4 linked regions of the Homo sapiens genome follow. The protein of the gene in region 1 purifies or fractionates together with the protein of each later gene. This does not show direct contact. Each region holds a gene or a part of one and is shown on either strand. Other genes may lie near its edges. The genes, in order: GRAMD1B, TMEM131, GRAMD2B and FRMD5.

Region 1 (7,025 bases):
ACTCGGGAGGCCAAGGCGGGAGAATTGCTTGAACCCGGGAGGTGGAGGTTGCAGTGAGCCAAGATCGCGCCATTGCACTCCAGCCTGGGCAACAAGAGCGAAACTTCATCTTAAATGAATAAATAAATAAAGTAGTTTGTCATGGCTTGTCGGCTTTTCCCTCCAATGTAAAAGAAACTAAAAGAGACCTTCTTTTGATCTTGAGATTCTGCCATATATACTGAGGACAAAATATGGTAAAAAGAGCCGGGTGCAATGGCATGGCCTGTATTCCCAGCTACTTGGGTTGTGGTGTGAGGATCACATGAGCCCAAGAGTTCAAGGCTTTAGTAGGCTATAATGGTGCCTGTGAATAACCACTGCATTTCAGCCATGGTGAGACCCCCACCCCCAACGCTTAAAATGTTACGTGCGTGTGTGTGTGTGTGTGTGTGTGTGTGTGTGTGTCTTTGTGTGTATGAAGAAAAAAATCTTGCATTGCTGGCTAGGATGGGGATGACAGTAGATTTGGTTAGATTTAGGAAGGTATTCCTGGTTTCGAGAGTTGTCTATGTGTGTAGTGGAACCTTCATTTTGTTGGATTTGGGGACATATCCTTAAAATTTGGCAGGATTTTCATCTAGATGTAGTTCAGGCAGTTATTTTAAGTGGTGACTTTTGGATTAGAAGAACCTATGTATCAGCCGGGCGCAGTGGCTCACGCCTGTAATCCTAGCACTTTGGGAGGATGAGGCAGGCAGATTGCCTGAGCTCAGGAGTTAGCCACCAACTTGGGCAACACGGAGAAACACCGTCTCTACTAAAAATACAAAAATTAGCCAGGTGTGGTGGTGGACACCTGTAGTCCCAGCTACTCGGGAGGCTGAGGCAGGAGAATTGCTTGAACCTAGGAGGTGGAGGTTGCAGTGAGCCGAGATCTCGCCACTGCACTCCAGCCTGGGCAACAGAGTGAGACTCCGTTTCCAAAAAAAAAAAAAAAAAAAAAAAACCACCACCAACAAAAAACAAGAACATATGTATCTGAAAAGGCAGACTCTGGATTCAAATTCAAATTCGTGTGACTCACATCTACTCTTAGCTACTGTTATACTGCCTTCTGTTGGAATCTATTTGGATTGTGTGTAAAACAAAGCCCCATCATTTTTAGGCCTCGAAGATGAAAGGCTTCCTTCCAAGAAAAGCAGCAATCAAGTGAATAGGTGCTCGTAGATACCACCAAGTGGCCTGAGAAGGAATTGGTGGCGGGGTGTGGTAGCTCATGCCTGTAATCCCAGCACTTTGGGAGGCTGAGGAGGCAGATCATTTGAGGCCAGGAGTTCGAGACCAGCCTAGCCAACATGGCAAAACCCTGTTGCTACTAAAAATACAAAAATTAGCTGGACATGGTAGTGCGCGCCTGTAATCCCAGCTACTCAGGAGGCTGAGGCATGAGAATTGCTTGAACTTTGTGGGCAAAGGTTTCAGTGAGCTGAGATCACACCACTGCACTCCAGCCTGGGCGACAGAGCAAGACTCCATTTCCAAAAGAAAATAGAATTGGCATTTAGAGGCAATGGAGTGCAGGGAACATTGGACTTAATATCAGAAGACAGCTGTATATTTAAGTTCTATCATCGATTAGCTATGGAGATTAGCTTGAGCATTTCACTTTACCTCCATGAGTTTCACCTTCTTCATTTGTGGAAGAGGATCTCTGTGGGTTAATGGGAAGTCTGAAGAGTAGTGAATGTGAAAATGTTTTGCAAACTTCCTCTTGCTGTGCAAGGGTGAAGGCTTATTTCATTACTCTGTGAGTCTCTCACATGGAATGGATGTTTGCTTAAAAGTATGAGGTTACATACTCACGTGTCCTGGAGCAGCACCTGAGCCTCCTCACACAATTCAGGATTTGGAAATGATGGTTGGAAAATGGCTCTGCTCTGGCCTGGATTAGGGAGGATTAGCATACCAGGCCCAGCATGACGTCTCCACATTCCCCACCCCAAATCTCCTGCTCCAAAAGAGAGAAAAACACCTTTCAGGCTTGCTATGAAATTCAGCGTGATGTGGTAGAAGTTAAGTGGCTGAGAGGGCCATAGCTTGTGGATTTCTTTTAATTTTTGTTTTTTCATTATTTGTTTCATTATTTGTTTGTTTGTTTGTTTTTTTACTTGTCACTGACTTGAAGCTCAAGCTTGCGGATTTTCACTGCACAAAGTTGAAAATATGAAGAGGATTAGGAGACCCTTTTCTTCTCCTTAAACCCTAGGAAGGAAGAAGTGGAACAAATGGTAAAGACAGCATGGCTTACTAACTTTCCAGTGTTCACTGGAATACTCCAAGACCAATCATGTTCATCTTTGTATCGTCACAGCACTGTACCTGACCTCTTACAGTGATCTATAGATCTATAGATGTTTGTTGATGAGTTAATAATGAGTAAATAAATGATTCCTTTTTCTCTACTGTTTAAAGTGAAATTCTTTTATTCATGAGTGTGGGAAAATTTCCAAAAGGAGATGAGTACAGAGCTGAGTTTTTAAAAACAGCTTTATTGAGATATAATTTATATAATATACAATTCACCTATTTAAAGCATAATTCAGTGGTTTTTAATATATTCACAGCTATGTACAACCATCACCACAGTCAGTTTTTAAAAACGTTTGTTGCCCCACAAAGAAACTCATACTTTTTTTTTTTTTTTTTTTTTTTGAGACGGAGTCTCCCTCTCTCACCCAGGCTGGAGTGCAGTGGCTCAATCTCGGCTCACTGCAGCCTCTGCCTCCTGGGTTCAAGTGATTCTCCTGCCTAAGCCTCCTGAGTAGCTGGGATTACAGAAGCTCGCCACCACGCCCAGATAATTTTTGTATTTTTAGTAGAGACAGGGTTTCACCATGTTGGCCAGGTGGGTCTTGAACTCCTGACCTCATGATCTGCCCACCTCAGCCTCCCAAAGTGCTGGGATTACAGGCATGAACCACTGTGCCTGACTGAAACTCATACTTTTTGGCTAGCACCTTCACCCTCTCCATCCCATTTCCCCAGCCCTAGACAACCACTGATCTATAGAGAGCTGAGTTTTGAAGGGTTAACAAATGCCTATAGGTGAAAGCAGTTTGGATGTGTTGGCTTGAAGATAGAGATGGATGACCAAATGTGATCTTGTTGAGGAATGTGGAAAAATGAAGGTGGTGAGGCTGACAGACCGAAGGTGATTTATGCCAAAGAGTTTGAATTTCAATGAATCACTCAGTCATCAAACAGGTATTGAGATCCTATATGCAGAGCGCTTCCTAGGCAAAGTGAAGTCAATTCAATGAGGAGCTGTCGTAGATTCTGGAGCTTGGGAGAGACACTCTCAAAGTGTTGCTCGAGGCAACTACTTTCTGCTGTTCCGTGTAGTGGGGAGGAAGCGTGGGGAGGTGAAGGCCTGGAGTCTTGCTCTTTTCTTTCAGTGGTCTAACTGCAAAGCATCATCTTAACTACCATTGAACATAAGACGGCACAATTTTTTTTTATTATACTTTAAGTTTTAGGGTACATGTGCACAATGTGCAGGTTTGTTACATATGTATACATGTGCCATGTTGGTGTGCTGCACCCATTAACTCGTCATTTAACTTTAGGTGTGTCTCCTAATGCTATCCCTCCCCGCTCACCCTACCCCACAACAGGCCCTGGTGTGTGATGTTCCCCTTCCTGTGTCCATGTGTTCTCATTGTTCAATTCCCACCTATGAGTGAGAACATGCGGTGTTTGGTTTTTTGTCCTTGCGATAGTTTGCTGAGAATGATGGTTTCCAGCTTCATCCGTGTCCCTACAAAGGACATGAACTCATCCTTTTTTATGGCTGCATAGTATTCCATGGTGTATATGTGCCACATTTTCTTAATCCAGTCTATCAAGATGGCACAATTTTTTTGCTGGCCATGTTGCCCTCTGAGCTCAGGGAATAGCGTAGCCTGCAGTTGATGGGGCAGGCTCTTAGCATTAATACTCACATGTCTTTCTAACTTCCTTGCCCAAAACTGGTTGTGGTGATTGTTCAGAACCCAAACTGAGGATTGGAACCCTTCTCTGAATTGCTAGGTTCAGAAAACTCAGAAATTAGATGAAACCACATCTCCCAGGATGTCTTCTTGTCATCACTCTCTGGAGGGGGAAGGGAAAGCTGACGACGGGTGAGTGAGTTGGGTGGTGGCCAACTGCAGGCTCTTTCTAGGGGATGCAGAAGCACCTCTCTGCATCTCTGCCCAGTATACCTTCACTGTTACTATCTTTTGTACCATCTTTCACCTGGCTGTTATGTCCCTTCTTCTACATAACACACCTACCCCCGTCATGACTGCTCACAGTCTAGCAGGCTGGCGGCTAGAGAGTGGAGGGCCTCAGGGTTTCCACTTAGCTCCATGTCTGACCACTGGTAGTGCCGCTCACTAATTGTGCCCAGCATGCTAGGCTAGGTCATCTCTCTGGTGCCAGCCTAGCTGGCGTGTGGTTTGCCTGTAATGAATACACAGCATTGGTATATTTATCTTGATTCTTCATCTCCTTCCTCTGACCTTTGGAGGGAGACTTGTTTCGGGTTTCAGCTCCATTTCCAGGAGAGCAGGGTGATTTTGTGCATCTGAATGCTCTCCCCCTCAGCCCCCGTCACTATTGGTGTAGCTTCTCCGCTCTGTGTGTGCCCTGCTACATATGAGAAGCACAGGAAGTGTGGGAGAGAGAAAACTCATGTCCTTCTTAACACAAAGCAAAGAACAAATGCAAAGGAGACCTATGATTGGTCAGTGGATTAAGTAAGTGATCGGTGCTGGATAGGGTTAACTGGCAAAAACTTCCACCAGATTCATAATTCCTTGAGGGCAGGGACCGGTCTTACTTTGTGCCAAGTTTTCTGCCAAGCAGCCTTAAATACATTATCACATTAAATCCTCACAACAATGCCTCGGTCCCCCCAGGCAGGTTTTCCAGCTGAGGAACCTGAAGTTCAGAGATTAACATTCTCCTGGTCCAACAGAAGCAAGGCTGGGATTTGAAGCGTGTCCTAATTCCAAAGCCTGAGCTCATTACAGCTCCACTGCCCTATCCCCCCAGGGCCTGGAAGCAGTCAGCCCTCCCCTGCTTGAGAACTTGTAGATGTGGAGGGGGAGGTCCTGAAGCAAGGTAGGAATGTGGACAGTCGGGAGGCCATTGAGGAGATGTGTGTGAGGTTGTGGGAAGCAGAGAGGTGTGAGGATGACCCTGTTGACGGTCTAGGTGGACTCCTCCGTGAGAATCAGCTAGCGCCTGGCTGTAGATGTGGTTTCTAGATTAAAACAATCTGTGGAAACTGAGACGGTAGAGATGGAACCCTGTGGGCTGATTTCATACTGGCCAGCTTCCTCTGTGGGAGTTGGTATTTGGAAAATTTCCTTGGTGGTTATGCACTCAGAGGGTGCCAATTACACATCAGGTAAGGGGCTGGTATGAACATGGGGCAGATGCACAGGTGATCTTTCTGTCCTAGTTGGTGCATTTCTCCCAGGTATTATATAGCCTCCAATTGCTATGCTGGTCACTGATAATTGCTTCTAGGGTAACGCAGAAGTTAAGGAGTCTGAATGGCTAAGCTGCCAGTGGGGAATTTTCTTCCTGACCCCAGTGGGCAAACTGCTGGCCCTGAAGCAGGTGTTTAGACCTGGGGCCAAGGCTGGCCCGGAGAGCCTGGAGGTGGTTGCTGGGTTGCTGTGTGTACAAGAGCTTGATGAAACCTGAGGGTTTTTCCTGGGGCATTTGCCCCAATGGGATTCTTTCTTCCATAGCACATATCAGTGTGTGACTTGCCAAGGGGCTGTTGTGCCTGGTGTGAGGAGGGACATAGCTTCTTATTGTCTTGGGGGGTGGGAATCTATGAGCTCTTCTCCTGTGACTCTGGAGCCTGGAAGGAAGTGTCCTCTCAGAGGAGACTTGTTTCGGGTCTCTCAGGGACTCAGAACAGAAAGCTTCTCTCAGGGACTCAGAACAGAAAATCGAATGTGGGTTTTCCAGTGGGAGAAGGGAAGCAGGATGGTGATGCCTCAGCTGGTGAGGAGATGTTGGGCAGTAGCCAGCCACTCCCTGCCACCATAGGCAGCAACCTCCTAAACACACTCCTGTTTTCAAATATCCTCTTCTGTTATCAGACCACATGTCTGGATTTTCGATTCAGATATTGTCATATAGCTCGAAATCCTCACTAGGAAAATGTGGCTGTGCCTTTGGTCCCTTTGTGGAAGGGAGGGATAAAGAAAACCATGGGTTTTTCCTTTGAGGCCCTAACACATTGGGTAGTCAGAGGGTATGAAGCCCTTCTGTGTCCTCTGTATGTCCTCAAGCTGGGATGAGACTCCGGTTCTCCAATTCTGATCTGTAGATGAGATGGAGGAATGAGATGACCAGGCACGTCACGGAGGCAGTGCAGGGTCAGAGCTGAAACTCAGGCCTCTGACCTGAAATCTCGACCAGTTTCTAACAGACCTATTACATCTCTGCAGCAGCCTCATTCTTTTTAAGGTCTCTCCCTCTCAGCACATCACTGTGGTCAAGCCTGTTCCCCCACCCAGCCTGGTGCCTCTTCCCTCCACAATCTGACCACAGAGATTTTCAGTCTTGCTGCTTCTGGTTGGCAAGTTTATCCAGGAAATGATGGAGCTGAGGGAGATGACTAGAAAAACAATAAACAACCTATTTGGTTTTTGCCCTCCTTTTTGCAGCCATAGAAAAATAATTTTCTGGGGGAGGGGGAGCGCCCAGTTTGGGGATGGTAACCCTTGCAATATTTGCCTCAGCAATTAGGAAAATACAGAAAGGCAATGGATGGTTAGTTTAGTGACACATTTTTGAGACTCTCCAAGAGTCTTCAAGCTTGTTGTCTTAAAAGGAATCATTTTAAAAAATGTAGTGCATGTGCTGCTGAAGTGAGCACAAGAAATCATTTTTTATGCCATAAAAGTCAACGCGGCCAGATGCAGTGGCTCACGCCTGTAATCCTAGCACTTTGGGAGGCCAACGCAGGCAGATAA
Region 2 (7,570 bases), on another chromosome or scaffold:
GTACCTTTCCTCTGGACTAGTGATAGCACACTCCCATAGCTCAGTTAAGTCATATAGGATGTTAAGACAAGGAATGGTCCATGCTTCTGACTCAAGAAAATCAACATCAAGTCCAAACATGAAAAACTACATTAGGTAATTTATTTCTGCAGCTTTTCTTCAGGAGACAATGAGTTTTATTGTCTTTTAAAGATTTTGCAGTGAAATTATACAGTAATGAAGGAAAAGAAATACAAACATACAAAATACCTGCAGAATCATCATTAAAACTGCAGGTAAATCTTAACTTTGAAATTTTAAACTAGTTTATGCTACTTCAATAGACACAAAATTCCTCCGGGTGTGAATGATCAAACTGAACTCAGCCATCTTCAGAAATCTGCCCAAACTTGCTGAAAAACTCAACAGTACCTTTTAGGACAAATACTGTATTTGTGCCTCATCAGATGCCAGACTCACAGTGTCACAATCACGTAAGAAAATAAATTGCTTTTCCCCTACTTACTCAGAAACAATACTGGAATATGATCAGTTTTAAAGGAGAAGCCATTTCTGGAGATACCTTCACAGAATATTTGATTAGAACCAGATCTGTTTATGATGGGTAGAGGCCTATGTTCTATATCAGCATCATCTCCATTAATATCTTGGATAACCGCACACACAAATTGTTCATACAGAAAAGCATGGGCCACAAAGGATATCTGATTCACCCAGGCCACTGGCTGATTCAACCACCCCTTTAATACATACTTAACACCCTGGCAAGTATTCTCCTCATCCAATCCTTACACACATTTATGGGTATTAGAGAGGTGCACTAACATGTATAAACTATGCAAATGAGAAATTAGCAAATATATTTTAGGCTGACAGTTCTCAAACAAAAGGTTTGTTTACTTAACTTTACCCAGAGTAAAGTTTTTATTAGCATATAAAATGGCTGTTGGAAAAATCAGCAGCAGTAGAAGGAAAATACAAACTTAATGCTTTACTAGATTCAACCATTATTTCAATTCCCTGTGCTAAGGGCGCATGAAGACAGTCATTCACTCAAAGGCTAAGCGCCAGTGTGTCTGGCACTGTGCAAGGTAAGCAAAGGAACAGAAAAACAAGGACACAATACCCACCAAGGTCTACTTGAAGTCCCACCCAAAAAATGTCCATTAAATTACTGCACTATTTTGGGTTCACTGAACACCCACTACAGGCCAAAATGCTAGGTGCCACGATCACACATAAGAAAGAACACTCAACTAACTGCAGATCTGTGGCCAATGATGTATTATGACAACCCCAGGACCGACTAGTCCTAAAGCGGCAATATTTTATTCTGGAAATAATTTTGCTTCCATCAATTAATCCTTTCTATAGACGACAATTCTTTGAATAATTTCCACCAATGTTAACTCAGACTAAGGTTGCTTAGAGAGTTAGATAAGGGAATGTAATGTGGACAAAAATAAAAGAAACAGTATACTGAAGCACATTTGCACTTTAATACTAATTTGGTTTGTATTTGCTTTCACCTTCAGCAACAATAAAAAGCAAGTGACTTTAGTCATAAAGTAGAATGTTAACTCTAAAATTACCGTGGCAAGAAATTGTTTTCTTGTACAGGCAGTTTCATGTGCAATGCTAAACTAACAAGTTTTGCGTGGTTTGTTTTTTTTTTAAACTATTCACTTAGTCAATTCTTCATGAAGGCTCTGTGACCATTCACATGTCCCTTGGCTCAAAAAGAGGTAGTGTAGATGAAATTACACTGATTTGGTCTTCAAGATTACAAAATAATTTTTGACCCTGTCCAAGTACCCGTTTTGCAGCAGTACAATACTAATGAGATTTTTAAAATAGGGGCCAGCCCTTAACTGTAAATTATAGATAAATGCTTGCAAGCTGGCAACTTCACGTTTATTTTTAAAGGCTTTCACATCAAAGATAAAGGCACCGAATCACGTATTTTAAAATAAGAAATGTAAACAGGCTTTCAACAGCTTACTAAAGAGTTAAATGGAATTGTATTTAGGTCTAATAATAAAGTTATCAATAACGCAGAGACACTAAAGGAGGAAGCTACAGGACCAAGATTTCCCCTCGAAGAAATGTCTGAACAAATTCAAAGTGAAATTTTTTAAGCTGTGTCTCGCTATTTTTACCACATTTTAAAGTAAGCTCTGTCTGCATGCAACCAACCGCAACCAAGAAAACAGAAGTGTCCTAAAATGTACCTATTCGCCGCAATAAAGCCAAAAAATATGCCCCTCCTACCTAGCGGGCCAAGTGGCAAGAACGTACGAGAAGTCAGGAAGTTTTGAAATGGCAGTGACAGGAGACGGGGGAAGGCACGGGAAGGAATCACGGAGAGCGAAGGCCACTCCGTGCGGCGGGCGCCGCGAGGTCCCGGCTCGGGACGGTACCCGACCGCCCAACTTTGCGCCGGAGCCCCGGCCGCGGCCCTTCCTCCCGGCCCAGCCCTCCCGGCCTCCGCGAGAGCGGGGTGACAGCCCCGCCGCAGGGACGCCGCCGGGGGACACCCACCTTCCTTCTCGGCCCGCGCCGCAGCCACTACGAGGGTCATCACCAGGTGCAGCGCGCCTAGGAGGCCGGCGGCCGCGCTCCGCGGGCCCCCGCTACGGGCGGCCGCAGGTTCCAGCCCGGCCCCGGCGGACGTGGAGACGGCGGCGGTGGTGGCTCCGGTTGCTCCTCCTCCCGCCCGCTTCCCCATCCCTGCCGGCCGGGGGCCGCCGCGCTCGAGGTCCGGCGCGGCCCTTCTCGGCGAGGCGGCGGCGGCGCGGAAGCCGTGGTCCGGGCTCTGGCCGCGGCGCCGGGAGCGACAACGGTTGCGAGCCCGGGGCTCGATCTCCGAGCGTGGGCCTGGGTCCGTGCGTGCGTGTGAGCGAGAGTGTCAGTCACGGTCTTTGCCTGGGCATCGCCTACAAGCAGTCGGAGCGGAGAGGCCGCGGGTCAGGCGCGGCGGGCGGCCATACTGGAAACGGGCACGGCCCGCGAGCCCTGAGCGCTGGCCTGCGAGGGGCGGGGCGCGGCTCTGGGCACCGCCCACGCTGTGCCGACACCTGGGCTGTCCGGCGGTCAGTCTGTCCGCCCCGGAGCCCCCTGGGCCCCACCTCCTCGTCCCGCTCTCGGAGGCCTGCGGCTTCACGGCCAGACAGAACCAGGACAGAACAACCCCAGCCCGTTACCGCTACCTGGCGCAGGAGAAGGAGGGAGGCAGGCCCAGGTCCAGCTGCCAGGACTTATGATGGCGGCTTCTGCTTCGCGGAGGCGGTGTCGGCAATCACGTGGAGACGGGGCGGCCTCGCCGCGCAGCCGCCGCGTTGCGTGGGCGGGGCAGGGGCGGAGTTGCGGGGCGCTAACCTCTTCTCCGGCGCCTGGGCAATCCTCCGTGCTCTGTCCTACAGTGGTAGAGCCTTCCAGGGGTGTGAGTGCGCATACAGACCGCGAGACGAGCGCGGAAGGTCCGTTCCAGTGACTCTTCCTGGTGGCACCCCCACCTCTCGACCGCTTTGACGTCGAGAATACCCCGGGCCTGACTCAGTTCTTGATGGTGCTTCCTTGAGGATGGTGGCCCGCTGAACTCATCCTTGGGTCTTCCAAATCATGGTACCCAGGAGGAGCTTGATGGAGTCCTCTTGCCTTGGCTTGTGCCCACATTGGCGCGGAACACCTCGTGTGCAGAAAGCGTCGGTGACTCTGGATGGAGAAGGCAGGGGCAAACAGACTGCTCTTTAGAATATCCAGTAGCCGGCTTCCTCTCTCGAGGAAGAATTCTTTTTTTTCTTTTCTTTATTTTTTAATTATTTATTTATTTTTGAGACAGGGTCTGGTTCTGCCGCCCAGGCTGGAGTGCAGTGGTGCGGTCTGGGACTACAGGCACCCGCCACCACGCCACGCCAATTTTTCTTTTTCTTTTAAGAAACGCTGTCTCACTATGTTGGCCGAGCAGGTCTCGAACTCCTGGGCTCAAGCAGTCCGCCTTCCTCGGCCTTCCAGAGTGCTGGGATCACAGGCGTGAGCCACTGTGCTGGGCCCGGAAAAATTCTTAAGACGTCTGTTACCTTCACGAGCCATCTCGCGCCTCTTAGATGCCCTTTTCATCTTAGGTTGAGCTTCTTGGTGCGCATGGCTGTTGTCTCCAAGACTTAATTTAAGCTCTTGGAGGGGGTCCTTCTTTACTCATCTTAGTAACTTCCTCCCAGCTTGTAGCCCAGAGACATTTTACTTTCCTTAGCTGTATTTGTTGAGTGAGTCGATATATGTGTAAGGCCAAGTCTGCCCACAGTACGTCTCAGAACAAGCTAGATAGGAAAATAAGGTTTCAGAAAGACAAAAGGAACTCCAGAATCTACTCTATGAAGTAGTCCCCTGTGTCAAGCAAGCACTTAAATTTATTCATAAATTAATATATATTTAAATATGACCTTAGCCTAATGATTTTAAAAAGCAATTTTAGGGCAGGGCGCAGTGGCTCACGCCTGTAATCCCAGCACTTTGGTAGGCCAAGGTGGGCGGATCACCTGAGGTCAGGAGTTCGAGACCAGCCTGGCCAACATGGTGAAAACCCGTCTCTACTAAAAAATATAAAAATTAGCCGGGCGTGGTAGTGCATGCCTGTAATCCCAGCTACTCCGGAGGCAGGAAAAACGCTTGAACCCGGCAGGTGGAGGTTGCAGTGAGCCAAGATAGCGCCACTGCACTATACCCTCGACAAGAGCAAAACTCCGTCTCAAAAAATTAATCATAAGCAATTTTACTTTTTTGAATATTAGCCTTAAAATTGAGTAGTCAAATTTTATTTTGATGTAATGAAATAGGAATAATTATCTCTTAAGTTGGCGTTTAAAATGTCTGAGGCAAGAGATTTCTGGAAGGCTTTTGACTCACGGAAGAGATCAAACCCAAGGATATGTAACTGAGCGCTTTTGCTTAGCCTCCAACGTGCTAGCTCTGCAAGTCAGCAGCCCTTCCCCCATGGCCAGATTCAGGACAAACAAGCCTTTCCAACCATGAAGTGCTGAGGTTCTCTTACACAGCAATCAGCCACATCCCCTGGTTAGCCTGAGGCTCAGCAGCTCCATGGGAAATAACTTGCACCTGTCTGTAATTGGATCTTTAGACGTATACAGACATGTTTGATCAGAGTTCGATTTCCCATGCAGCTAATGAAGCTTAAGCCGCAGGGCCCCCTCTCTTGCACAAGTTCCTTCCAAGTCCCTGAACCTAATTGTGTATTTATAAGCCTGTATTCTTGTTCTTAAAGGAGCCCTCCCAATAGTTGGGTAGGCTTTTAAGGCCCACCATACCTGAACCCTCCCCTGTGCCTGAGGGACACTAGGAGCAGGAGGGGTGATGATGGAACTTTCCTCCCAGGAAAGGACAATGAGGCCACTGAGAGTCTAACAGTGAAAGACGTTTTGCTAGACAGCATGGTAAACTGTGTGTTAGAGAGAACCTGGCGTGGAGCCACCATCACCCTATGATCCTCTACCCCCACTCCCCAACCCTCATGTGTCTCAGGAGAGAACCAGGAGTTAAAATTGAAGGAACCATCACACTAAGGACTCTCAAATAGTTCTGATTAGTTGTGAACTTTTCTCTTTTTCCCTTTTGGAAATTGGAGAGACCTGGCCATTTGGCAGGTGGAGGTATTAGCTGGCAGAGTCAGGGAAAACTCGCTAAACCAGTGGTTCTCAAGGTGTCATCCCCAGACCAGCTGTAGCAGCAACACCTGGGAACCTGTTAGAAGTGCAAATTAGCAGGCCAAATCCCAGACCTGTGGAATCAGGAATTCTGGGTTGAGGTCCAACAATCTGTTTAAACAAGGCATCCAAGTGATTCTGATACAGGCTCAAGATTGAAGACTGTTGCACAGTGATATATGCCAGGAGCTACAAGCTGTTGGGACTCCTCACTTTCTGTTCATTTTGCTCTCTATGCAGGTTAGTAATTTACCATTCAAGGCAGAATTATAAGAGACTCAGACAAATTTGAACTTAAATCCCATCCCTGCCTTTACTAGCTATATGATGCTGAGCAAATGACTTTTCTGGCCTCAGATTCCTAATCTGTAAAAATGGGGATTATGATATAAATTTGGGGAGATTAAGCATATAGGTTTGTGAAGCATATAGACTAGTGTCTGGGACATAGGAGACTGTCAAAAGTAGCTATTAGTGAGCACTCACTCTTTTCAAAACACCACATTAGGCACGAAGATCCTTGATCCATTGATACCTCCACTTCATTCCACAAAATACTTAAGGAGGTGTGCAAGAATGCCTTCTATGAATTAAAACTGGAACTAGGAGGGAGTAAACTGTTGGGCTTTCCAGGGTTCTATCTCCTTTGCTGCATAGGTGAATGCACCTGGTATCCTGCCGTTCAACACCATCTATACACTTTCAGGTCCCCACTTCATGTCACCAGCCAGACCTCGCTGTCTCTATTGCTGTTCCCACTCAGGTGTATAATGAGGTGTCTTAAACTCACATGAACTCCACATCTTCCCATGCAAACATGCTTCACCCACAGCCTTTCCTATCTCCAGGGCAACTCCAACCATCCAGTTGCACAGGCCAAAAACCTGGGAGTCATTCTTTACTCTCTCCACATGTACCCAAATCTAACTGCTTCTCACCACCTGCACTACTCCACTCTGGTATGAGCCCTGTCATCCGCTGCCTGGATTTCTGCAAGAGCTTCCTAACAGGTTTCCCTGTTTCCACCTGTAAAAGAAAATTTTCCACTTACAACACTTGCATAGTAGATATCAAAACGGAATGCTATGCTCTACCACAACTGGTTCTAACCAACTGAAGCAGATCAAGGACTGTGAACTTTGAGTGACCCCATACCAGACCCTTGTTAGACCTAACCAAAGACTCCTTTCTGACCAGTTAACAAAGGGACATGTTTTATCAACACTATTCCAACCTATCCAGAGCACTACTTTCCAGCCCTTAATCCGCATAACCTCCAAACTCCCTTCTCTCTTTCTCACACTTAAAAAACCCTGACTTTTCCTAATTCATGAGTTACTCAGTGAACTTTTTCACTGGTGTGTTTACATCCACCCCTGGCAGTATATAAACTCATCTTTGATTTTTTTTTTTTTTTTGAGTTTTGTTGGGCTTTGCTTTATATTTTGACATAAATTTGTACTTTTATAGTCTATTGTCAACCTGACAGCCAGCATGATCCATTTAAAACATAAGACATGTCACGTCTCTCAATGTTCACATCCTGCAGTGGCCTGCTTAATGTTTTTAAAAGCAGTTGGGGAAAGTGAAATTTTAATTTTTAGAGACTGTATATTAAAAAAAGCAATAACAGGGAATATTTGAATACCCATCTCAGGGTAAAAGCTTCCTTGATCTGGCTTGCCCCGGTCTTTCCATTCCTCCTGGATTCCTCCAGGCTCGGTCTGTTTCAGCTGAAATGACCACCATTTTGTTCCTGGAACATATCAGGAATGCTTCTACTCCAGGGTCTATCCTCTAGCCCTCCACCTGAAGTGCTTTCTCCCCACCCCCTTCTCCCTGGTTCTCTG
Region 3 (7,136 bases), on another chromosome or scaffold:
TACAAGGTGAGCACTGGTAAAGAAGAGATGAGTATGGCCAGTAATGAAGGAAGGCTTCACATGAAGGAAAACTTGAGTTGATTTCTAGAAGTAGATGAAGAGAGAGGAGAGAGGGGAAAGGAATAGCAGTAAGGAAAAGTGAAGACAGAAGGGGATTCATTTGCTCCTATGTTTGGCATACCAGTTCCTTATTCCTTCTGCATATCACTTCTTTTTTTGAATTTTATAAGAAATATATTTTTAAATTATTTTAAAATTAATATTATTTTTAATTGACAAATCATAATTGTTTACATTTATGGGGTACAGGGTAATGTTTTGGTATATGTATACAATGTGGCATGATTAAATCAAGCAACATACCTATGGTCTTGCTTACCTATCATTTTTTATGGTGAGACATTTGAAATTTACTCTTAGTTATATTGAAATATACAACATATTATTATTCACTAATCTCCTTGCTGTGCAATAGAACTCAAAACTTATTCCTCCTAACTGAAACTTCGTACCCTCTGATCAACTCCCTATTCCCTCCTTCCCCACCCTTTCTACCTTCCAGCGCCTGGAAACCACCATTCTACTCTCTATTTCTATGAATCCAACTTCTAAATTTATTTTTAAATTAAATTAAATTTTAGTTTTGAGACAGGGTCTCACTCTGTGTCCAGGCTGGAATGTAGTGGCATGAACATGGCTCACTGTAGCCTCAACTGCCTGGGCTCAAGAGATTCTCCCACCTCAGCCTCCCGAGCAGCTGGGACCACAGGTGTGCGCCATCATGCTTAACTTATTTTTTTTTGTCTGTAGAGACAGGGTCTCACTTTGTTGCCCAGGCTGGTTTTAAATTCCTGGGCTCAAGTGATCCTCCAGCCTCGGCCTCCCAAAGTGTTGGGATTATGGGCATGAGCCACAGTCCCTGCCTGGCCTGAGTCAACTTTTTCAGATGTCACACTTAAGTGAGAACATGCAGTGTTTGTTTTTCTATTCCTGGCTTATTTTGTCTAACATACGTCCTCTAGGTTCATCCATGTCACAAATGATCTTTCTTTTTAAAGGCTGAATAATATTGTGTATATATACCACATTTTCTTATCCCTTTATCCATTGATAGACACTTAGATTGATTTCGTATCTTGTGTATATAGCACATTTTCTTATCCATTCATCTGTTGATGGACACTTAGGTTGATTTCATATCTTGGCTATTGTGAGTAATGTGCAATGAACATGGGAGTGCTGCATATCACTCCTTTAAGTATAGGGCTGCTAGTATGATTGTTTGGCTATAAAAGATGTGCATGCTGACTAGTATTAGGAAGTGAGGTTGCAATGGTCTGTGTGGGTCCAGATCATGAAGGATCTTAAAATCTTGGCAGAGAAGCCTATTTTTAAGAGTAGGCCATGGAAGGCCATCATAGATTCTGGAACAGAGGAACCAGTGTACAGCATAGTGGTTCTAAGTTCATGCTGTAAAGTTAGGAGACCTGGGCTTGAATCCTGGCTGCTCTTTTATTAACTTTGTGACTCTGCCTAGCTGCTTAGCTTCTCAGAGCTTCAGTGCTTTTATCTGCAACATGGAAATAATAGCACCTGCCTCATTCTTTGTGAGAATGCATTTAAAGTATTGAGCACACTCCCTGTCACATAGTAAGCATTCTCAGTAAGTGCCAGCTACTATTATTTAGGAGGCTAAGGCTCTAGGTGATGAGGTCTACATGGGTGCAGTTACAGACGCAGGGAAATTGTGAGGAGCAAGTCATTCTAATCCTCTTAGAAGAAATGTCCATGGGGACACCCAGACTTCAACAAGACTTTGAGCCTAGTGATAATTAATGTAAGTTATGAAGTTCAAAACAGAAGTTAGACCGGGTTTCTAAGCACAAAAATTTGGCAACTTAAAATGATTTCAAAGTGGAATTATCACATCAGTATAACCTTATGATAATACATATCCCTCCTTCCTAAATTACTCATATCCTGATACCAGAACAAGAGTTTTAGAGCTCAGAAGGGTTAGTGTCTAAAATCATAGACTGAATTAGAAGTGACTTCAGTAGGCTTAGAAAATACCACTTTGTAGGAAAAAAACAACCTCTCCTCCCAAACCAATTTTACCAAAGACTGCAAAATAGATAAATATTTTAAAAGTAGAGAAGACTCAATTATAGGCTAAACTCTTTATCATACCTTGTCTGTGTGTTTAATGTGGCAATGGTCACCAAAGTCCCTTGAAGTACAGTAATATTCATTTGTGCCTCCCCCATCCCCACTCTGCTCTTGAAGTTCCAGAAGGGCAGATCCAAAATAACATTTATCCTTGTATTGCCCATCGTTATTGAACAAGTAGATACTCAATTATTTGCTGAACTAAAATGAATTTGTGAAAATGGTCATTCTAAACGAAGGGCTGTGTTGGGACTTTGAGCTTCAATGTGGTTAGGCTTATTTTCTACAAAATTATTTTCCCAACATCCAGTGAGTTTTGAATTAAGAGAATTTGTTTAAATCCTACAGTAGACTTTTCAATCAATCTAAACCATCTCCTTAACTGAATATCTAGACAGAGAGAGAGAGTGAGAGACAGAGAGAGCGCGCCACAAGATTGTCCATATAGGAGCTCCAGAAATCCGCATCCACCCAAAATGCGTCCCGGGGCAGAGAAGTTTAGGCTGCGCTCCTCCCACCTCCTTGGATGGGTCCCAGCTGAGAATACTCACTGGGCTGAGCCAAGTTTGCTCTCCCTCTTCCCGAGCACTTTCGCAGGCTTTGTGTCTTCCACATCTTGCTGTAGTTCAGTCATCGGGGCCGTGTCTGGAGGGCACCTTCAGACTTCCGCGCGCCTGGCTCTGCCCCGGCTCGTCCCGGCTTCTAGGTCCGGGTGCGCAGGCCAAGCAAGCGGCGCCGTGCCCTCCCCTGCACCCTCCGCCCAGCGCATCCAGGCCGGGCCGCGCCAAGCTCCCGGGGCCGCGGACCTGGACACGTCGGAGCGGGCGCGATTGGTCCGACCCACTGTGGAAAAGCCGAGAGGGAGGGAAGGGGAGGGTCGAAGCGAAGTGACAGCCTCTTTCCCCAACCCAGGAGGCAGAGAAGAGAAAAAGGAAACCTGTTGAACGAGTCTTTCGGGAGAGGAAGCTAATTGGCCAAGCAGGTGGAACATTTGCCTAAGAAGGCACAATCTGTTTAGCCTCCTGGTAAATTAAGCTTTTTGTTTTCTATCCCGACTGTAACAGGGGGATTTTTAGAGGGCAGCCGGCTCTAGATACCGGAAATGGAGACGTCTGAGTGGGACGCCCTGTCACACAAATGCGCTGTGTGGGCTGGCCTATGCCCCATCCTAAATTATTCAAACAGGATATTGCTTCATTGAGGGACTGCCTCTTCTGCTTAAACAATAGGTCTGCTCAATTTTTTATGTGGGAATAACAAAGGTAATAAGTAGTTGCCTTTGGTGGTGTTTTGGTTAACCCTTCATCGTTCTGGGGTGGGGGGGGTGGTTAGAGGGGCAAAGAAGAAGCAACCATCAAAATCTTCAAATATTGGGTTATGACTGTTCTCATCAAAATCAAAATTGGTGTTTGATAATTCCCAAGCCGTCTCTTTGTTGCCCATAGTTGTGCAAGTACCTTATTTACTATGCACTCAACCAGTACCGTGAATGCCTCTTCTTCCCACCTTTTGGTGACATTTTGACTTGCCTGTTCTAAGGTTTTGTATTGGAAGCATTCACTCATTCATTCATTGAACAAACTTTTGAGAGCTACAAAGTTCCAGGCATTGTTCTCAATCAGGGGTGTCCAATCTTTTGGCTTCCCTGGGTCACATTGGAAGAAGACGAACTGTCTTGGGCCACACATAAAATATACTAACACTAAGGATAGATGATGAGCTTTAAAAAAGGTCTGTGCAGGGGCCAGGCACGGTGGCTTACGCCTGTAATCCCAGCAGTTTGGGAGGCCGAGGCGGGTGGATCATTTGAGGTCAGGAGTTCGAGACTAGCATGGCCAACCTAGTGAAACCCCATCTCTACTAAAAATACAAAAATTAGCTGGGTGAGGTGGCGCAGGCGCTTGTAATCCCAGCTATTTGGGAGGCTGAGGCAGGAGAATCACTTGAGCCTGGGAGATGGAGGTTGTGGTGGGCCAAGATGCACCACTGCACTCCAGTCTGGGCAACAGAGTGAGACCCTGTCTCAAAAAAAAAAAAAAAATCCGTGCATAAATGTCACCATGTTATAAGACAGTTTATGAATTTGTATTGGGCTATATTCACAGCTGTTCTGGGCTGCAGGTTGGGCAAGCTTGTATAAACATTGACTTGTTATAGCAAATGACATTTGTATTGGTGGTTTTCTAATTTGCAATGGAGTAGTTGACAATTAGAATAATTAATATAAACGTTATTATTGGAAGCCTGACTTGACTTCAAAACAATTACAAGTGGCAACAGTAGAGCATGACATGCCTGGGAAAAAACGACTAACTATGTTCTGGGGCTGCAAGTCCTTCATTTTTCTCTTAAAATAAAGTTTAGATTTAAGAGTATTACAAAGACTATACAACCATAGTATGTACATGTATGTATGTAGTTTGTAGGGTGTATGTGTGTGTAAAACACCTAACCTTCTAAATAACTTCAAACATTTTGGAGGTGCAAGTTCTTTCCAAAGTTTTCTTATTCCTTCTCTTTTTACATATATATCATTAGGCTGAGAGAACAAAAGCATCTTTTTGTAGCCTGCTTGCTCCAAAATTGATGTTTGTGACATTTGAAAAATAAGTAAAAGAAAAAGCTTACATAAATTCCAGAAGAGTTGGCTTAGTCAGGCCTCTCTCTCTTTTTCTTTCCTGACCACTGACTGCTTTGCTATAGGAGCTGTGCTAGGTGGGATGGGGAAAACTCTGGGTGACCTGAAAGCTTGAAGGCTGTCTCCTTGGTGCCCATAGTTGCCTCTTCCTGGGGACATTCCTGATGCCTTCACCTCTAGATCCCCACCCTCCTCAGAATAGGGATAGGTTTGGAACAGAGATGAGGTTGTCAATTTCCCAAACTCTGGATGAGGACTCTCAGATCTCAGGTGCACTCCAACTTCTCATTACAGAGCTCAGATCAGACTGACTTTTCCCCGCTAAGTAATTTATTTATTGTGGTAAAATATACATAACATTACTATTTATCATTTTAATAAGTGTATAATTCAGTGGCATTCAACACTTTCACAATGTTATTTAACTATCACCACTTATCTGTACCCAAAACTTTTTTTTATCATCCTTGGCATAAACTCCCATTAAATACATTAAACAATAACTCTTTCTTTCTCACCTCCTCCCAGCCTCTGGTAGCCTCTAGTTTACTTTCTGTCTCTATAAATTTGTCTGTTTTAGGTACCTCACATTAGTGGAATCATACAATATTTTTCCTTTTGTGTCTGGCTTGTTTCACTCAGTGTAATGTTTTCAAGGTCAATCCATGTCATAGCATATATCCAAATTTCATTTTTTTTTGGCTGGATGATATTCCATTGCATGTATATACCACATTTGGGTTGCCCGTTTATCTGTTGATGGACCCTTGGGTTGTTTCTAGCTTTTGTCTATTGTGAATGATGCTGCTATGAACATGGGTGTGCAAATGTTTGTCTGAGTCCCTGATTTCATTTCTTTTGGATATATACCTAGGAGTAGACTTGCTGGGTCATATGGTAGTCTATGTTTACCCTTTTGAGAAATCATGGTCAGCCCTCTTTTAATGCATGAGTAAGGGCAAGTATTCAAAGCAGTCTTAGCATGGGCTTATGGCTCAAATAAAGAGCACTCAGTTACCCTAAAATAGCTTAAAGTTCTTTAGTGCATGGTATAAGGACTTCCAATGGTGTGGTTTTAAGTGAGAAGGAGCAGGTGAGGTTGAAGTGGAAGGCAGGGCTGGTAGGGAAAATATCAGTCTTTTCCTAGAGTGGAAGAATTAGAAAGGAGCAAGTAAGCTACAATATTTTACCTACTGATGTTTGCTTACGTTTAAAAGGCATTGTTAAACAACTGCCTAATTTGTTTATTCTTGGGGCTATTCTACAGTAATATATGGAATATAGTATTCAAGAGGCACGGCAGATAAACAATAAAGGAAATGTCATTGCCATGTGACAAAATAGAGATGTAAGATTATGCCTATGATATGTGAGAGGAGACAAGATAAAAAGATTATGCCTAAAATATGTTTTAGGATGCCCTTTGATATTGTACCAATAAGAGACATTATTTTTCTTCCTCTAAGTCTCTGGGAATCCAAATTCTTGTTTTTAAAAGCAAAGAAGATTTCTTTTCTTTTCTTTCTTTCTTTTTTTTTTTTTTTTTTTGAGAAAGAGTCTCGCTCTGTTGCCCAGGCTGGAGTGCAGTGGCACGATCTCAGCTCACTGCAACCTCTGCCTCCTGGGTTCAAGCAATTCTCCTGCCTCAGCCTCTCGAGTAGCTGGGACTACAGGCACACACCACCACGCCCAGCTAATTTTTGTATTTTTAGTGGAGACGGGGTTTCACCATATTGGCCAGGCTGGTCTCGAACTCCTGACCTGGTGATCTGCCCACCTTGGCCTCCCAAAGTGCTGGGATTACAGGCGTGAGCCACCATGCCTGGCAAAAGCAAAGAAGATTTCTAGCTGATACTTTTTCTAGTTTTTAAAACCACTTTGGTAGAAGATGCCAGACATAACACCTTTGGTGGGTGGGAGCTTCTATGCAAACAGCTTTGATGTTTGATATTGGTCAGATATTGGCCTTCCTTAACATTGAGCACATACACTGTGCATCTGTTCATACTCTTGGGGGCAGAGTACAAATAATGTGTTTGGAGACTTGAGTGGAGATTTGGTTGCAAGGTGATATGGTTTGGCTCTGTGTCCCCACCCAAATCTCATGTTGAATTGGGATCCCGAGTGTTGGAGGTGGGAAGTGATTGGATCATAGTGGTGGTTTCTAATGGTGTAGCACCACCCTCCTAGTGCTGTCTTGTGATAGAGTTCTCATGAGATCTGGTTGTTTGAAAGTGTGTAGCACCTCCCCCTTTTCGCTCTCTCTCGCTCTCTCTCTCTCTCTCACCTCTCTCTCGCTTCACCATGTGAAGATGGTGCTTGCTTCCCC
Region 4 (6,941 bases), on another chromosome or scaffold:
ACAAATACTTTGACAGAATTTCTTATAACTGAAATTTACCAAATGGAACTATCATGACTCCAACCCAGTGATACATTTCTGATTCTGTAATATCCTAAGTAGTCTCTGATTATGCTAAGGCAGTAAAATCATTCTAAAATAGATACTTTATTTAAACAAAAATATGGCATACAACACTTTAAGGAAAATGAGTTCAAATTATCACCATAAAATATACAGTGCTACAATGCCTAAAATGTTGGGAATATTGCTTAACCTAATAAGAAGTTCACAGATCCTTTCCATACTGATTTAAAAGATCCTATGCCCAGTATTTAACAAATAAGCACATGCACATATACACACACACTCACTACAGAAATGCATGAAGGGAAAAGCTGATAAGAAAAGCTCAATTTCTAAATGTTCAAAAAAGCTACATGCAGAAAATGTTAATTTCATATAAGATACTGTCTTTTTGCTACATTTCCTCACATGGGTAAAAACAAAAGCAATTCGCCAAAGTGATGCCAAAGAATGACAACATTACATATACTTAACAATCCCTGTGTTCTTTAGATTCCATGCAAAAATCACAATGCACAATCATTAACATGTCTAGACAGTGGACACTTACTACAGTGTGGCCATATTACACCAAGCTTAATTTTTTAGGTGGCCTAGATATTTTATAAAATTAAATTGTAATAATGTAAAATGAGAGCAGTAGGAAAATAAGTACAGCTATAGTGGGATATAGCAAGCACAAATCCAATAAGTCCTATTTAACTCAAAAATATTTTTTTTCTAAATGGTAATAAAAACTACCCACAATTATAATACCAATCAAGCAACCTCAAAGGTTCCACTAACTGGGAAAAAAATAACTATTTGCCTCACTGCAATACTTTAAAACCACAAGGTTAACAATCATTTCTAGCGAAATGGTGATGTGAATTGTGTTTTATTTGTATTCTACACCTTGGCAAAAGTTAATGACCTGCCTCGGAAATTATTTCACATACCCCAAAAGTATTCTTAGGACTTATAAAGTCTAAATCTCACACTCCCCTTGATATGCTATTGGATAAATGCTTTAAATTTTAAAACAAAAGGATAAAGACTTTTAAAAAGCTCTAGACAATATACTCAAATGGTGAAGATATCAACTCAATGTATTCTCATACCCCAGCAAAACAAAAAAAGCAAAAAAAAACTGGACATGGCACAATGATACAATAGGAACAAAAAGTAGTATTCCACTCATTCAGCAAGGAAATAATACAGAGCATCTCTCTATCATATTCAACTACAAAAATCCTTTCACTTGATGGCTAGCATCTTTATGACTGCTTAGTCTGTATTTAAGTAGCCTTAAAAAGAGATTTTGTGCTCTTTCTCTACCCTCATGGATCTTTGGCAGCAGTCAGCACTTATGCCCAGAGCTGGTTTCGAGGGGAGGGAGAAAAGGGAAAGTGAGGAGAAGGCTGAACTGAGCACGGAGTCAGCAGAGACCAGCTGCTCTCATACACTACCCAGTGTCTTTCTCACACACCGCTATTTTCCGCGATTGAGCACTGTCAGCAAAAATAAATAAATAAGGAGGCGGGGGGCAAGAAGACACTGAGGGTAGGACCCAGGCCGACAGTTTTTGTCTGTCACATCTGAGCCAGAAGCCTCCTCCTGTTTTCCTGCTGCAAAGGCAAAGGATCAGGTGAGACCCCTCTGGGTCCAGCTCAATTAGCTTCTCCACAAAGAGCAGCTTCCGGCGATGAGCGCAGGATCCTCCTGGCTGATGAACTAAACACGGGAGCATTGTCAATGTTTTCAATCTCTGACTTTTTCATAAGGGAGGAGAGAGGGCTGTGACTGCATTCCCGGGAAAGACTACTACTCCTGACGTGCACACAGCAGTAGCGAAGGAACATGAGCAAGAGGTTGTAAAAATCCCTTCAAAAATACCAGGTTCTGAAAGAAATGCTGTTGAGCATTACCGTATTGTTGGCGTTTTTCCTAAGTCGCCGATTCTTCCTGGCCACTTCCAAGCCCCAAATCGCTGGGACTTGTTGCTAAATCTTTACCTCACGTCCCCTAGAACCGCCCAACACAATAAAATTTGGGGATCAAAAGGCGGGAGGGGGCCTAAATCTCTAAAACCCAGAGGACTGGGCTTCCTTCAATAGGCCACTCCGCATGGGCTGCGCGTTCAGTTCTACCTTCTGAAAGCTCTGACTCACAAATGGTGGGGGGAGGAATTATGACATAAACCATTATCCTTCCAACCCAAGAAAGATAAGAAAAGCCAGCCATACGTCCTTGCCCGGGCAGAGAGCCAAAGCCTGCGCCCCCGACGGGGCGGCCGGGCTAGGAGCCTACCGCCCTACCCGCCTCCCTCCGGGCGCCCCGGAAAGGTGCACCTTACTCGGGCGGGCTCGAGGAACCAGGACGGGGCGCCCTCACCCAGGGAGAGCAGGGTAGGACTTAGGGGTGTGGGACGCGGAGACTCGCCCCGCGGCGGCGGTGACACACCGGGTGCCAGGGCTCCGGCAGGGGCTCCGGTGAAGACGCCCTGCACTAGGGCGGTCCGCCGCAACCAGGAACGGACAAAGCACGGCGCTGGGGCTGGGGCGACCCCTGGGCGGCGGCCGCCGCCGGCCAAGTTGACCAGACTTGGGGGACAAGGGGGTCCCGCGGGCGGGGCGGGGCGGCGCGGCGCTGACCTGGATGGTGCAGGTGTACTCGCTGTCGTCCAGCAGCCGCACGGTGCAGCTGTACTCGCGCTCCAGGCTCCTGCTGCTGCCGCTCATCAACCTGCTCAGCATCTTCCCGCCCGCCCGCCCGGGAGCGACGCGGCGGCGCTGCGGACCCTGGACCAGGCGTCCCTCAGCCCGGCAGCTCCGCACCGACCCCAGGCACCTGCACCATCACCCCGGCCCCGTCGCTGCCGTTGCCTCCTGCTGGCCTCGTTCCTCCTCCTTATCCTCCTCCTTCCCTCAGCCGCCACCGCCTCCCCCCAGCCCAGATCAAGCGCCGGGCTCTGTCTCCTCGGCGCCCCAGTGCCCGTGCCCAGCTCGCGGGGCGGGGCCTCAACTGGAGGGGGCCAATGGGGGTCAGCGCGGCGGAACCGAGTGGCAGACCGAAAAGCCAATCGAGATAGAGTACTGGGATGATGGGCGGGATAAAGAAGCAATCACAGAAAAGCAGTCGGACCTAGTCAAGCCGGAGCAGCCCTCTAGCGTCCCAAACGAGGGGTTCCTCTCCGCCCCGTGGTTCCTATGGATGCTGTTTCCCCTCCCCCGGGCCAGGTGTGAGCACCCAACTGGATTGATGTCTGCCGCCTGAAATACACTTGATCTGCGTTTCCGAAGCCAAGCCTCGCACCCTGCAACACCGCGGTTCCCGCCCTCTTGGGAGCCGGAGCGAGGAGGCGGCAGGGTGCTGGATCACAGTCCCTGCACCTGCAGAATGCGGATACCTCTCGCTCCAGATAGGGCGACTGCCCCCGACCTGTGCTGTACCCTAAGTTGGCCCGTCTGGCCTCTGTGCTCCAGCCCTCTTATTTTGGGAAACAGGAGCTACTTAAATAAAAGCTAAAGGGACCTCAGAGGTTCTGAAGTACCCAGGTTTAATCCCCTAAAAAACCCTCCACTCTAACACCCTTTGCCTCCTTTTTATTTCAGAAGACAAAAGGAGACTGCTCCTTCAGCTGGTAGGGAGCAGAGGAAGCAATGAATCTTCTCCTTGCACTTTTAGAACTGGAAATTATGTCTTCAGACTTTCTCAATAGAACAACATAGTATGTCAGGAGGTATACATCACAAAGAATTGTCTCCTTCTCTTTGTCACCCCAAATTTACAGACTTCAAGGTTTTTTACCAGAACTTCAATAAGAGATATTCTCCCTCAAAGATTTTTGATGTGAGGAAATGTTATAAAATAATTATGTCGGCCGGGCGCAGTGGCTCAAGCCTGTAATCCCAGCACTTTGGGAGGCCGAGGCGGGCGGATCACCTGATGTCAGGAGTTCGAAACCAGCCTGACCAACATGGTGAATCCCCGTCTCTACTAAAAATACAAAAAAATTAGCCGTGCATGGTAGCACGCACCTGTAATCCCAGCTACTCGGGAGGCTGAGGCAGGAGAATCGCTTGAACCCAGGAGGCAGAGGTTGCAGTGAACCAAGATCACGGCCATTGCACTCCAGCCTGGGGGACAAGAGCAAGCCACCGTCTCAAAAAAAAAAAATAATCGTGTCAACATAGAACATTAATGCTGTAATAAATATATTAATTTAAAATAATGAAATAGGCATAATTTCCTATTACTTTCATTTGCACTGTTCTTGTTTATAGGTATAATGTGTAACAAAAATGAAACTCTACATTAGCCTAGAAAACTATCCCGCCTTTAAAGTATGCTTCTTCCCTAGTGTCTTTGGATTCCAATATTTTCCCCAATTTTTTTTTTTTTTTTTGCATGGGGAGATTCATTCTCTTTCATTCTCTCTCTCTCTCTCTCTTTCTCTCTCTCTCTCTCTCTCTCTTCCTCCCCCTCTCCCTCCCCCTTTTTCTTTCTATCACCTTAGTAACCTGGACTGCTCTTAATTGGTTGCATTCTCCTTTGTGGCATTTAATAGCCATAGGAGCAGGATTCTCTTTTCAATGCAATTTGGATGGAGTTAGTTATGAGTCTAGAACTAGTAAGTCAAGTGTTCCAGGCATAAAACCAGGCATGCGCTCCACTACTTTGTAGCTTCAGCAGGTAGTCTGATGCCTGAAACATAATAGGTATTCAATAAGTGTTGAACTGAATACAAAAATTAGCCGGGTGTGGTGGCATGCGCCCGTGGTCCCAGCTACTGGGGAGGCTGAGGCAGGAGAATCGCTGGAACCCGGGAGGTAGAGATTGCAGTGAGCTGAGATTGTGCCACTGCACTCCAGCCTGGGCAACAGAGCAAGACTCGGTCTAAAAAAAAAAAAATTGATGAACTGAAGTAAATGGAATTGACAGGTGTTCTACAGCACTTAAATCCCAGAGGAAGAAGACCTGTGAAGAAACTCAAAATTTCAGGAAGATCTTGGAGACAAGTAAAATTATTAATATGCCAAAGTGATATTCTACAAAGCTCAGCTTTGTTATGTAGCTGTAAGAAGATAATGAAATATTTCAGGCTGGGCGCAGTGGCTCACACCTGTAATCCCAGTACTTTAGGAGGCCGAGGTGGGTGGATCACGAGGTCAGGAGTTCAAGACCAGCCTGGCCATCATGGTGAAACCCTGTCTCTACTGAAAATACAAAAATGAGCCGGGCATGGTGGCATGTGTCTGTAGTCTCAGCTACTCAGGAGGCTGAGGCAGGAGATTTGCTTGAACCTGGGAGGCGAAGGTTGCAGTGAGCTGAGATTGGCCACTGCACTCCAGCCTGGGAGACAGCGAGACTCCATCTCAAAAAAAAAAAAAAAAAAAAGAAAGAAAGGAAAAAAAATTCAAACTGAAAGAGCTTTTGTTGAAGGCAAAAGTTACTGTTTGTTATAGAATCAACAAGAGCAAGAAAAAATGTCCAAGCTAGAGGAAGTCCATAAGTGTGATGGTAGGAAAGTGTTTTTAACAGGTTATCCAAATAAGCAGCTGTTAGAATGAAAAGGCAAAGCACTATGAATCCAGAAAAGCTCTAAGGAACTGAATGCAGTCTTTTTTCGAAGTATGGCCATAGTTGCAATCAACAGAGGTGAGACTGTATTTCCTATGTCAATGTGTTAAGTAGAATCCTTGCTCAGTCTGAGAAAATCATGTCTGAGGCTGGGTGCAGTGGCTCATGCCTATAATCCCAACATTTGGGAAGCCAAGGCAGGCAGATCGCTTGAGCTCAGGATTTCAAGACCCACCTAGGCAACATGGTGAAACCCCATAGCTACAATAATAATAATAATAATAATACAAAGATTAGCTGGGTGTGGTGGCACACACCTGTAGTCCCAGCTGCTGGGGAGGCTGAGGTGGGAGGATTGCTTGAGCCTAGGGGGAGGGGAAGGTTGCTGTGAGCCAAGATCACACCACTGCACTCCAGCCTGGGCAACAGAGCCAGATCCTGTCTCAAAAAAAAAAAAAAAAAGGAATTAAAAAAAATCACATCTGCTTAGATGCTCACCTCACCGAAAGACCAGTTAGATATTCATTCATGCTTAGGTGTAATATCCAGAGAGAACTTCAAACTCTCCCTTCTTCTCTGATACAAAACACTTTGTGAGGAATACAGAGAATGAAAAAATAATGGAAGAAAAGCAAGAATCTAGATGTATGTCTCCACAAAAAAGCTCATGAGAAGAAGCATAAGGAGAACTAGAAAGGAAGGGCTCATATAAAACCAAACTGAATTTTGGGAGACTGGGCAGAAGAATCAATTGAGCCAGGAGCTATGACTGCATCACTGCACTCCAGCCTGGACAACAGAGCAAGACCTTGTCTCCAAATAAAATAAAAAGTAAAACCAAACAGAAATATTTTGTTTATCTTTGTTTTCCTCAAATCTATTAACTAGGATGCCCAGAATGGAAAGGGCTTATTTAATAAAAGGCCTTATTTGCCCTTGAGAACCAGCGTGCCATAGCTTTCATGTGTCTTTAAGTATAAAGGAGGCCACATTTAAAAATAAGAATCCAAATTATAATGGCTCTGAACCCCCACCTTCCAAATTATCAGAATATCAGCCGTCTTTTGAATTTCTTTTCCTTCTCTACTATGAGGGAGTCCCCAGGGGAGGTACTATCCCCCACGTATGCCTGAAAAAACTAAACAAAGCATTTCGTGTCTCTGCTTCAGATATTCTATACCCTGCTGTTCTGGGACACTGGTCTCTCTCTTTAGCCAATGCAACCTTCACCATTTCTTTAGATTTTGGCAGGAAGGAGTACTGCCCTCTCTTCACCAAGACATGACAAACACAGGCCCTTCCCATCAAAGTTT

Evidence for each region.
Region 2: the proteins of GRAMD1B (region 1) and TMEM131 purify together in Homo sapiens (affinity purification with mass spectrometry; 2 studies listed by BioGRID and IntAct, with this or other methods). This does not show direct contact.
Region 3: the proteins of GRAMD1B (region 1) and GRAMD2B purify together in Homo sapiens (affinity purification with mass spectrometry; 3 studies listed by BioGRID and IntAct, with this or other methods). This does not show direct contact.
Region 4: the proteins of GRAMD1B (region 1) and FRMD5 purify together in Homo sapiens (co-immunoprecipitation; 2 studies listed by BioGRID and IntAct, with this or other methods). This does not show direct contact.

The regions. Positions count from the first base shown.
Region 1 is NC_000011.10:123,433,267-123,440,291, forward strand, and holds part of GRAMD1B (protein Aster-B), read left to right. Parts: intron 1-2,167; coding exon of another isoform or gene 2,168-2,201; exon of another isoform or gene 2,202-2,449; intron 2,450-7,025. UniProt on the Homo sapiens protein: Cholesterol transporter that mediates non-vesicular transport of cholesterol from the plasma membrane (PM) to the endoplasmic reticulum (ER).
Region 2 is NC_000002.12:97,992,935-98,000,504, forward strand, and holds the start of TMEM131 (transmembrane protein 131 precursor), read right to left. Parts: upstream 3,015-7,570; 5' UTR 2,729-3,014; coding exon 2,542-2,728; coding exon of another isoform or gene 2,272-2,541; intron 1-2,271.
Region 3 is NC_000005.10:126,419,274-126,426,409, reverse strand, and holds the start of GRAMD2B (GRAM domain-containing protein 2B), read right to left. Parts: upstream 3,002-7,136; 5' UTR 2,804-3,001; coding exon 2,721-2,803; intron 1-2,720.
Region 4 is NC_000015.10:44,192,254-44,199,194, forward strand, and holds the start of FRMD5 (FERM domain-containing protein 5), read right to left. Parts: upstream 3,019-6,941; 5' UTR 2,802-3,018; coding exon 2,700-2,801; intron 2,194-2,699; exon of another isoform or gene 1,974-2,193; intron 1-1,973. UniProt on the Homo sapiens protein: May be involved in regulation of cell migration. May regulate cell-matrix interactions via its interaction with ITGB5 and modifying ITGB5 cytoplasmic tail interactions such as with FERMT2 and TLN1.